2 linked regions of the Homo sapiens genome follow. The protein of the gene in region 1 purifies or fractionates together with the protein of each later gene. This does not show direct contact. Each region holds a gene or a part of one and is shown on either strand. Other genes may lie near its edges.

What was found.
Region 2: the proteins of SEPTIN10 (region 1) and CTSZ fractionate together in Homo sapiens (co-fractionation; one large-scale study listed by BioGRID). This does not show direct contact.

Annotation. Positions count from the first base shown.
Region 1 is NC_000002.12:109,561,540-109,565,963, reverse strand, and holds part of SEPTIN10 (septin-10), read left to right. Parts: intron 1-104; coding exon 105-201; intron 202-1,429; coding exon 1,430-1,598; intron 1,599-4,424. UniProt on the Homo sapiens protein: Filament-forming cytoskeletal GTPase. May play a role in cytokinesis.
Region 2 is NC_000020.11:59,003,994-59,008,439, forward strand, and holds the start of CTSZ (cathepsin Z preproprotein), read right to left. Parts: upstream 3,262-4,446; 5' UTR 3,136-3,261; coding exon 2,993-3,135; intron 2,493-2,992; coding exon 2,329-2,492; intron 1-2,328. UniProt on the Homo sapiens protein: Exhibits carboxy-monopeptidase as well as carboxy-dipeptidase activity. Capable of producing kinin potentiating peptides.

The DNA.
Region 1 (4,424 bases):
ATAGGTTTGTTATTTAATTATTCTCTTCTCTCTCACATAAAATTTATTTTATCTAGTCAGTTATCACAGTGGTATGAGAAGATGTGCTCGATATTCTTTTTCAGGGACAGTTGCCGTTTGCTGTTGTGGGAAGTATGGATGAGGTAAAAGTCGGAAACAAGATGGTCAAAGCTCGCCAGTACCCTTGGGGTGTTGTACAAGGTAAATGAGACAAAGGATGACTAGAAATATGTATCTATCTAGTAATCTCAAAGCTACCTGTCATGCCTTCTTTGGGGTGATGCTTAGTTTGGATGTGATTGGTTGTCAGAGGAATTGGCTGTGTACTATTTTAGCCAAAGTCTGGAGGCCGTGTAGAGCCTCCCACTTCTCATTATGCCACACACACATTACCCCCGCCCCCACGGTACCCTGTTAGTAGGTGGGAAACACCAGTGGGGCACTCTGACCAAAATGTGAATGTGGAAAGTAGTGTTCAGACATAAAACATCACTAATTACCACTTAAGTATAAGAACAGTCAACCATCTTATAAATTTATATATTTTTACTGATCAAAGTATTGCCGGCTATTTCCAGAATAAGCCAGTCAGCCAACTTAAAAAGTTAAATCTACTTGACATTTAGATTATTTAGCTGACATTATAATGAGTAAGTAAATAGTATTATATGGTTCATTTACTTATAGTGCTAATTAATGGTGAATAGATTACCCTTACTAGTATGGATTTCCAAATGCTGATTTTTTTTCTTAATTGATAAATTTTGTAATGAATGAAAAAATTGAGAAAATATAACATTTTTAATTTTATAAAAAATGTAAAAGTAATAATTATACTTAAGAGTATTGGTCACAATAAAATATATTTATTTGTAGTCCTCTGGTCACCGTAAACATAGAAGAAGGATCATGTAAGTGTGTTCACTAATTTTGAATAGTGTCTAACACAGGATCATAAATGTGTTCTATAAAAAGAATTTGATAATTATAGCAGGGAAGGATAGTATTCTTGAGTTTGCAGAATTTACTACTTTGAAGTTTTAGTGAACTAATATTACATACTCTTTAAACATTATGTGAAATGTCTTCAGGATAGTTTGTAAACTGCTAACAAAATATTAGTGTGAAATAACTAGAACACTTGGTTAACAATAAGTTGTGTCTTTTTTGGTATTTCCTGGTGATTCATTGGCTACTAAATTTAAAGTAAATCTGGTCTGTTAATTCACATTGCCTATGATACAGTATTTATACTGCAAGAGTTTCTTCCTTGGTTACATGTATAAAATAATCGTAGCTGTTAATCAAACTGATCATTTGCTATTTGTTGTTTCACATGTTTTCATTTATTTGTTCATTCAGCAAACACTTAGTTGTGTGCCAGGAATTAAAATCCAGTGTTGTTCTTTTCTTATTTTTTTTTGGCTAGTGGAAAATGAAAACCACTGTGACTTTGTAAAGCTGCGGGAAATGCTCATTTGTACAAATATGGAGGACCTGCGAGAGCAGACCCATACCAGGCACTATGAGCTTTACAGGCGCTGCAAACTGGAGGAAATGGGCTTTACAGATGTGGGCCCAGAAAACAAGCCAGTCAGGTAGGGTGGGGTTCTTGGGAAGCCAACCAAAGAGGAAGTTAGAGAGGATTGCATATTTTTATATATCCAGGATGATGGGGCATGTGTTCTTTAGAATCTCCCAAAACCATGATATAGAATCATTTGGTAATGACTAATTATTGTGCTTCTTGAATCACTTGACTCCTTCTTGCTTTTGAAGAGTCTTGCTTTTTAAGTCCTTGTCTGACTCAAAAAGAGTTAAATATGATGAAGAATGTATGGCAGAGGCCCCCTGTTTCAGTTCATGCTGACATGAGTAACTGAAGGAAAATACCCTCATTATTTGATTTCTTTTTGTATTTATCTGAGACGATGATATATTTAACTGTTGTCATAAAGGTAAGTTGGAACACAAATCATTTTCTTAGTTTTATTTATTTATTTTTTGTAGAGACAGGGTCTTACTATGTTGCCCAGGCTGGTCTCAAACTCCTGGCCTCAAGTGATCCTCCTACCTCAGCCTCGCAAAGCTTTGGGATTACAAATGTGAGCCTCCATACCAGTCCTCAGGAATCATTTAAAATAAACTAAAACATTTTCTGTTGGTTTTTCTTCTGTAAAGGTTTTGGAATGAGTGAAGCTTAGCAAAACATATTATAAAGGAAGAAGGAGAGTGCTTGTAGGGAGTTGGAGATTAGATTGTTTCTTGCCATATTACAGTGTAGTTATAAGAATTTTAGAATCTGAACCCTTCCTTGCTCAGTAATATAAAGCATTAAAAGTTGTAGAAACTTCCTTGGTAATTTTATATGGTGCTGTATCCCAGACTTTATGCAACTCAAATCCTTAGTGTACTGAATCAGATCAATTTGATGTAGCATTCCAGAACAGTGTTTGCATGCAGGAAAGCGTGAGATCCTTGGGACAAGTGCTATTTTAAACTCTCTTATGAGACTGAGGATTCCTTTTCCATTGCATTGTTTGCATTTGTTATTTCTCTGGTTCTTAGCACCTGCACCAGAGTAAACAAAAGAAAGGGGGAGGAGTGCATCAAATTAGTGCCGCTGTTGCATATAAGCTTTTGGAAGACTTAATCTTAGATGAAGTTAAATTTTTAAATTTCTTCAGTCTATGGAGTTAATTAATGTTTTCACTTCTGGTAGCATAATGAATTAAGAATTGTATATACTTATGGCCGGGTGTGGTGGTTCATGGCCTGTAATCCCAGCACTTTGGGAGGCCAAGGCGGGCAGACCACTTGAGGTTAGGAGTTCAAGACCAGCCTGGCCAACATGGTGAAACCCCGTCTTTACTAAAATTACACAAATTAGCTGGGTATGGTGGCACACTTCTGTAAAACCAGCTACTCAGGAGGCTGAGGTAGGAGAATCACTTGAACCTGGGAGGCAGAGTTTACAGTGAGCTGAGATCGTGCCACTGCACTCCAACCTGGGCAACAGAGCGAGACTCCATCTCAAAGAAAAAAAAAAAAAGCATTGTGTGTACTTAACCCACCCTCACCAAATTCAGGCATAGGATGCTTCTGGTTGTGGGCCAGTCATTCTCGTAAACTGACAATTTTCTCATGATATTGTCTTCACTAAAGATTAATCATCTCGAGTTAGCTTCCCTAGTGTTTCTCAGAGGAGACTCACTTCTCATTTCTTCCAAGTCTCAGGGTCACTTCAGAGGCCTCTGTGCACTGAGGTGGAAGGGGTCCTGAGTAAGAGCGGGCAGGGACAACTTTGAAGTCCTCTCTGAGGAGACAGGCCTAGGTGTCTGGTGGAGTCATCATCAGTCACCTGTGGATGATTAAGAAATGCAGGGTCAGAATTTCCAGGGATGAAGCCTAGAAATCTGCAGTCAGAATTCTTAGTCATTCAGCAAATAGTTTGTCTGCTATCTGCTCAGCCAAATGCTAGTCATTGGGTGTATGTGCACTGTTGGATCAAATAGAGACCCTGCTTGTGTAGAGTCTCTGTTGAGGGGTGGGAGGAGGACCCCTATGTGAAGAAGAGAGTTGGGGGAGGGGGGCAGGTGGAAGTGGGGAGACCAAGTTAGGAGGTTGCCATGGTGGTCCAGGCATGAGAAGATGGAGGCGTGAAAGAGAGGGGTAGTGACAGAGGGGTGAGAAGCATGCTTAAGACATGTATTTTTTTAAATTTAATTTTATTATTATTATTATTATTTTTGAGATAGAGTCTCACTGTGTTGCCCAGGCTGGAGTTCAGTGGCATGATCTCTGCTCACTGCAACCTCTGCCTCCTGGGTTCAAGCGATTCTCATGCCTCAGCCTCCTGAGTAGCTGGGACTATAGGCATGCACCACCACCCCCAGCTAATTTTTGTGTTTTTGTAGTAGAGACAGGGTTTCACCATGTTGGCCAGGCTGGTCTTGAATTCCTGGCCTTGGGGTCAGGAATTCCTGGCCTTGAATTCCTGGGGTCTTGAAACCCCATCTCTACTAAAAATACAAAGTGATCTGCCTGCCTTGGGCTCCTGAAGTGATGGGATTACAGTGATGGATCACACCTGGCTAAGGATATGTAATTTGAAATTAAAGTCCATAGGACCCACTGATAAATTATTTTTGCATATGGGATTTGAAGGAAAGAGAGGGATCAAGGATAACTCAGTCACCACTTTGACCTAGAAAATGGGGTGACTGGTGGTGATCGTTATTGACCTGAGGAGGATGGGAATCAGAGAGTTTAGGGGTGTAGTTGGTAATCCAGAGGTTTTAGAAATGTTACATTTAAGCTGCTTATTAAATATTCAGGTGAAGAGTTTGAGTAGGTTATTAGACACATGATGAATCTGGAGCTAGGGAGAAGTTAGGGCTGCCATAGTAATTTGGGAGTCAGCA
Region 2 (4,446 bases), on another chromosome or scaffold:
AGGAGGCGGTGGGCGGTGCGTGATTTCTGCATCTGCTTCGAAGGTAGAACCGACAAGACTTGTGGGTGGATTATATGAGGGACAGAAAACAGAGGAGTCGGGTACCAGTCCAGGCTTTTGCCTGCATAGCCGGAAGGACAGCCAGGGAGGACTGGGGAAGAAATGGGCTGTCAGGTGACAGTAGTGGAAGGAGCCATCCAGACCTGAAGGTCTGAGGCTGGAGGTGTCAGGTGACCGGGACAGCGGGCGAGTGGGCAGGTGGATGTCAAGCTGAGTTCAGGTGAAGGGTTGGTCCTGGGGAAGCTGACACTCAGAACTCTGAGGAGCAGACAGCTGGGGAGAGGGGAAGGAGTGGCCAGGGAGGTGGAGGCGGGCAGTATGGTGCAGGAGAAGGAAGCATCCTGGGGAGACGTGATCAGGAGAATGCTTCACGGTGGGCCCCAGGTGGCAGTGGAAAGAACAGTGCCGGTGGAGTGGCAGAGGTGGGACTGAGGCTGGAGTGGGTTCAAGGGTAGAGAAGAGGAAGTGGAGGGACTCCAGATACTTCCCTAGGGAGCCCAGAATTGGGGCGGGGTGGGGCCGGGGGCTTTGTGTTCCTTTTTTCCAGGTGGGAGAGCTTCCCTGAGTGGGAAGGGACGGGCTCAGTGAGGGGACAAGACAGTTGATCCTGGGGGAGAGGAGGGAAGACAAATGGAGGACCTGCTGCCTTGGCTGGCAAATGGCCAGGGCCCCGTGGAAGTCCCCTTCTGGTGGCTTCTATTCCTCAGTGAAAGAGGAAGCGAGTGCCTGGGCCTGGGTGCGCTGAGAAGGAGGTTTCAGGAGAAAGTGGGGTGAAGCAGTCATCCGCCCAGAGAGAGTCCCCTGGGGAAATGCGGCAGGGCTGACCCCTGGCCAGGGTCCCACATCCATCTGAAAGCCATCTCCTTTCTACCCGCAGTCCTTCACAGACGCACATCTTGTCACCTGACTCCCTCTCAAAGAGTTCAAGGCTTCCCACAGGCACCTGTTGACCTTTCTATTCTCCCCTCACCCTCACCCCACCCTCAAAGGCTCTTTCACTTCCTCAGCGGGTGCCAGGCCTGGACACTTCCCCTAGACTCTGCCCAGTCCTCTGCCTCTAGCCCCACCCACACCCTGCAGCCCGCCCAAGGTCTCCCAGACCTTCCAGCTCCATCCACATCAAAGGGACCTTTGAACGATCAGAAGTGTGTTCCAGCCCCCGGGGGAGACGCCACGGATGCCACAGCTTCAGCTGGCTGGCTCTGGGGTCCAGACCCTACCCCCAGAGCAAGAACCCCTCATTCACAAGACTGAGCCCATCAGACATCCTGGCACAAAGCCCAGGCTTCCGGGCTCAAATCTCAGCTGTCACTCACACTATGCTCAAGCCTCCCCATCTCTCTGCAAAAAGCCTGCTTCCTCATCTGCAAACTGGAAGCAATCATGGCATTGAGGAGGCGTCAGTGAGATGGAGCACACGCAAACGCATGTCCCCCAGCCTTGGCCCACAGCGGCAGCCACACTGTAGTCTATCCTTTTCACATGGGTGTACAGCAGGCCTGACCCATGAGGACCAAGGCCAGGGAAGAGGCAACAGCACCACAGTGCTCATGGGCCAAACTCCCAGGCCACGCAAGTCCCATCTCCAGGGGAAATCCAGGCTCCTGGACCCTGTGCTGTGACTGGAGAGGGGATAGCAGAGTCCCTTCCAAATGCTGTGGGGTGGGCCTGGGGCTGGTTTGCAGCTGTCCCTTCTCCCGCCTTCTCTCCCAAAGCAGGGTGCAGCAGCCTCGTTGATAGGGAGGGCCTTAGTTTCCCCTTCCTCTTTGCTAAGAGCCTCCCTACCCTACTCCTGCCAAAAGCCTAAGATAGAAACCCACCAGGCTGGAGGTAGTGACCAGGTTAGGCCATGGGCTGTAGCCAACTAGCCTCACCCAATATTCCAAGCCCAGGACAGGCTTTCATCTGTGCTGAGAAGCAGTTTACTTCTGTATCCTCAAATACAGCCTGGGGACTCAGTGATTTTGCATTTCTGTTTCTATCCCAATGGCTGAGGTCACAAGCTTTGGGGGAGAGAGGGCACCTGGCAGCCACTTGTCACTGGGATTCAGTCCTAGTCCTGCCTGTCACCCAAAAGCCCCAGAATGACCCAGCTTGGGTCACCTCAGCAGAGGGCAAAGGCCCGCGCTCCTCGGCCTTAGCACCCCAGCCCAGGCTGACCTGGCCTTGAATCACAGGCCCCTGGAACCGCGGGCTGAGCTGCCTGGGCCTATAAACAGGCAGCCGGGATGGGCTTTCCTGGCCCACAGTCAAAGGGCGGCCACTCACCCGCCATAGCGCTGGTGCTGGCGTGGGCCCAGCAGGAGCCGCAGTATTGGGGGATGTGCTGGTTCCGGGTGATGCTGGCATAGTTGACACCATCCACATTGCGCCAGTCCCAGCTCTTGGGCAGATCCGCTGGGGACAGGTACTCATGAGGCCGGGGGTATGTGCTGAGAAGAGATCATCCCCACCCAGATCGGTGCTGGGGCTCCCGGGGGCCGTGGGCCCAGGAAGCCCTCGGTAGGGCCCTCCCGCCTTTCCCAACACCTGAGGGCATGGGAGTGGGGCCACAATCACCAGAGGTGAGCCAGGTGTGGGCCCACCTCACACTAGGAGGCTCCAGCGCTCTCAGAATGTGAAGGAGGCAGGGCACCCCCGAAAGGAGGGAACCGGGTTGCTCCCCCAGCCATGCCGCGCCGTAAGGGCCACCCCCAGAGGCCGAGGAGGTGGGGCTGGCCTGGCTTTCTGGCCAGGTGGGGCTTGTCCAACCCCACAAACATCAGGGCTCACCCTGGATGTGGAAGAGAAGGAGCGACCCCCAAAACGAAGCGGCTGGATCTGACCTTCCAAGGCCTGTTGGCGACGCAGGGCCCCCAGGAGGCAGAGCGCGCGCCTGGCCCGGGCGATGGGCCTCCCGTCCCCCCAGGGCTGCCTCCCCGCCGGTGCCCACCTGCGCCCCAGCGGAGCCAGCCCGTCCCCCCGCAGAGGCCGGTAGCAGGTCTGTCCCCGGCGGAAGTAGAGGCCGCCCTGCGCCGCGCCCGCCAGCAGCACGAGCAGCAGAAGCGGCCGCCACCCTGGCCCGCGCCTCGCCATGGCCCCGCGCCGGCTCCTGGGTCCCGCTCCGGATCCCGCTCCGAGTCCCAGATCCCGCGCCGGCTCCCGCTCTGGATCCCGCCCCGGCCTCGGCCTCGGCCCAGCACCCGGCCGACCCCGCACTTTGGGCCCCTGCCCCGCCCGGCCCTTAAGGCTGCGGCGGCCAGGCCGGGACACTCCCCCGGGGCGGGGCTGTCCCATCGCTGCTCCTGCCCCGCCCGGTGACCCCTGCCCTCCCCGCCCGGCTCCGCGCCCCGCTCCCTCCCTGGCTCCGGGGCACCTGAACTCGCGGGCCAGGCGCGAGGTCGCCGGGCAGACCCCAGCCTGACCCCGCCGCCGGCCGCCGCCCTGAGCGCGGGACTGTCCGGCTGGACTCATTTGCCGGGGTTCCTGGCTTCGGGGTGGGGGGCCGCAGGCTCATGGGCCCCCTTGGCCCTGCATTCCTGGGGCCCTGAGCCCTGGGGAGAGGCCCCCAGCCTCACATCTGGGCCCAGGCCTCCCCTAGGAAGGGATCCTGGGATGCGGCCACCGCCCCCAAAGAAGGGTCCCCGCGCCTGGCTTTCTAAACCCCTTTTCCCAAAGGCCCAGGCCCTTTCGGGGGGACGGTTCCCTTTTGCAGAGAAGGAAGGAGGGATCCTTCTAGAAAATGCCCCAAAGGAAGATTCCACTTGGCGCAGGCATCAGGAGTTATCCAATGTGACTTCCAAAGACGCCTTGAAAAGGTTTTCTGCTAACGAAACTCTTCTTAGTCAAATGAGGAACCAAAAGCAGAAGTGGCCCCCCAGGACGTGGTTTTGTAACTGGGGGAGGGCTTCTCGCTCCCTGCGGCCCCTCTGTTTGTCATGGCCCTTGGGCCCACACCATGGCCTTCTTCTCTGGTAAGAACAGGGCCCGGCATTCTGGGCTGCGACCTGACAGGCCCCTGCTGGGGGCCCTTGGCACAGGGCCCACAGATGAGCTTGCCTGACTCTCTCCATACTCAGTGGCACTCACCACATTCCAAGCGTGCCACGTGGGCAAGGGGAAGTCACAGTGGCTGCCTCCTGACTTCCAGAAGCTTCCATGACCATTCCCGGAAGCGCTGAGGTGGCCATGGAATCCCCGCATGACTGTCCGAGTGGAGAGCAAGGCTGGAGAGCTGCTTCGTCAGCCCAGAAGTTTCAGTCCTTGTTCCCCAAAAAGTGGTCACTGAGGCAAAGTGTGGCCCCGGGGCTCTACCTACTGATGTGTCTCTTATTTGTTTGGCAAGTCGCTCATGGAAACCATTAGTGTCCATCAGTCATCAGAAGGCGGGGTGGGGTGGCCATCCTG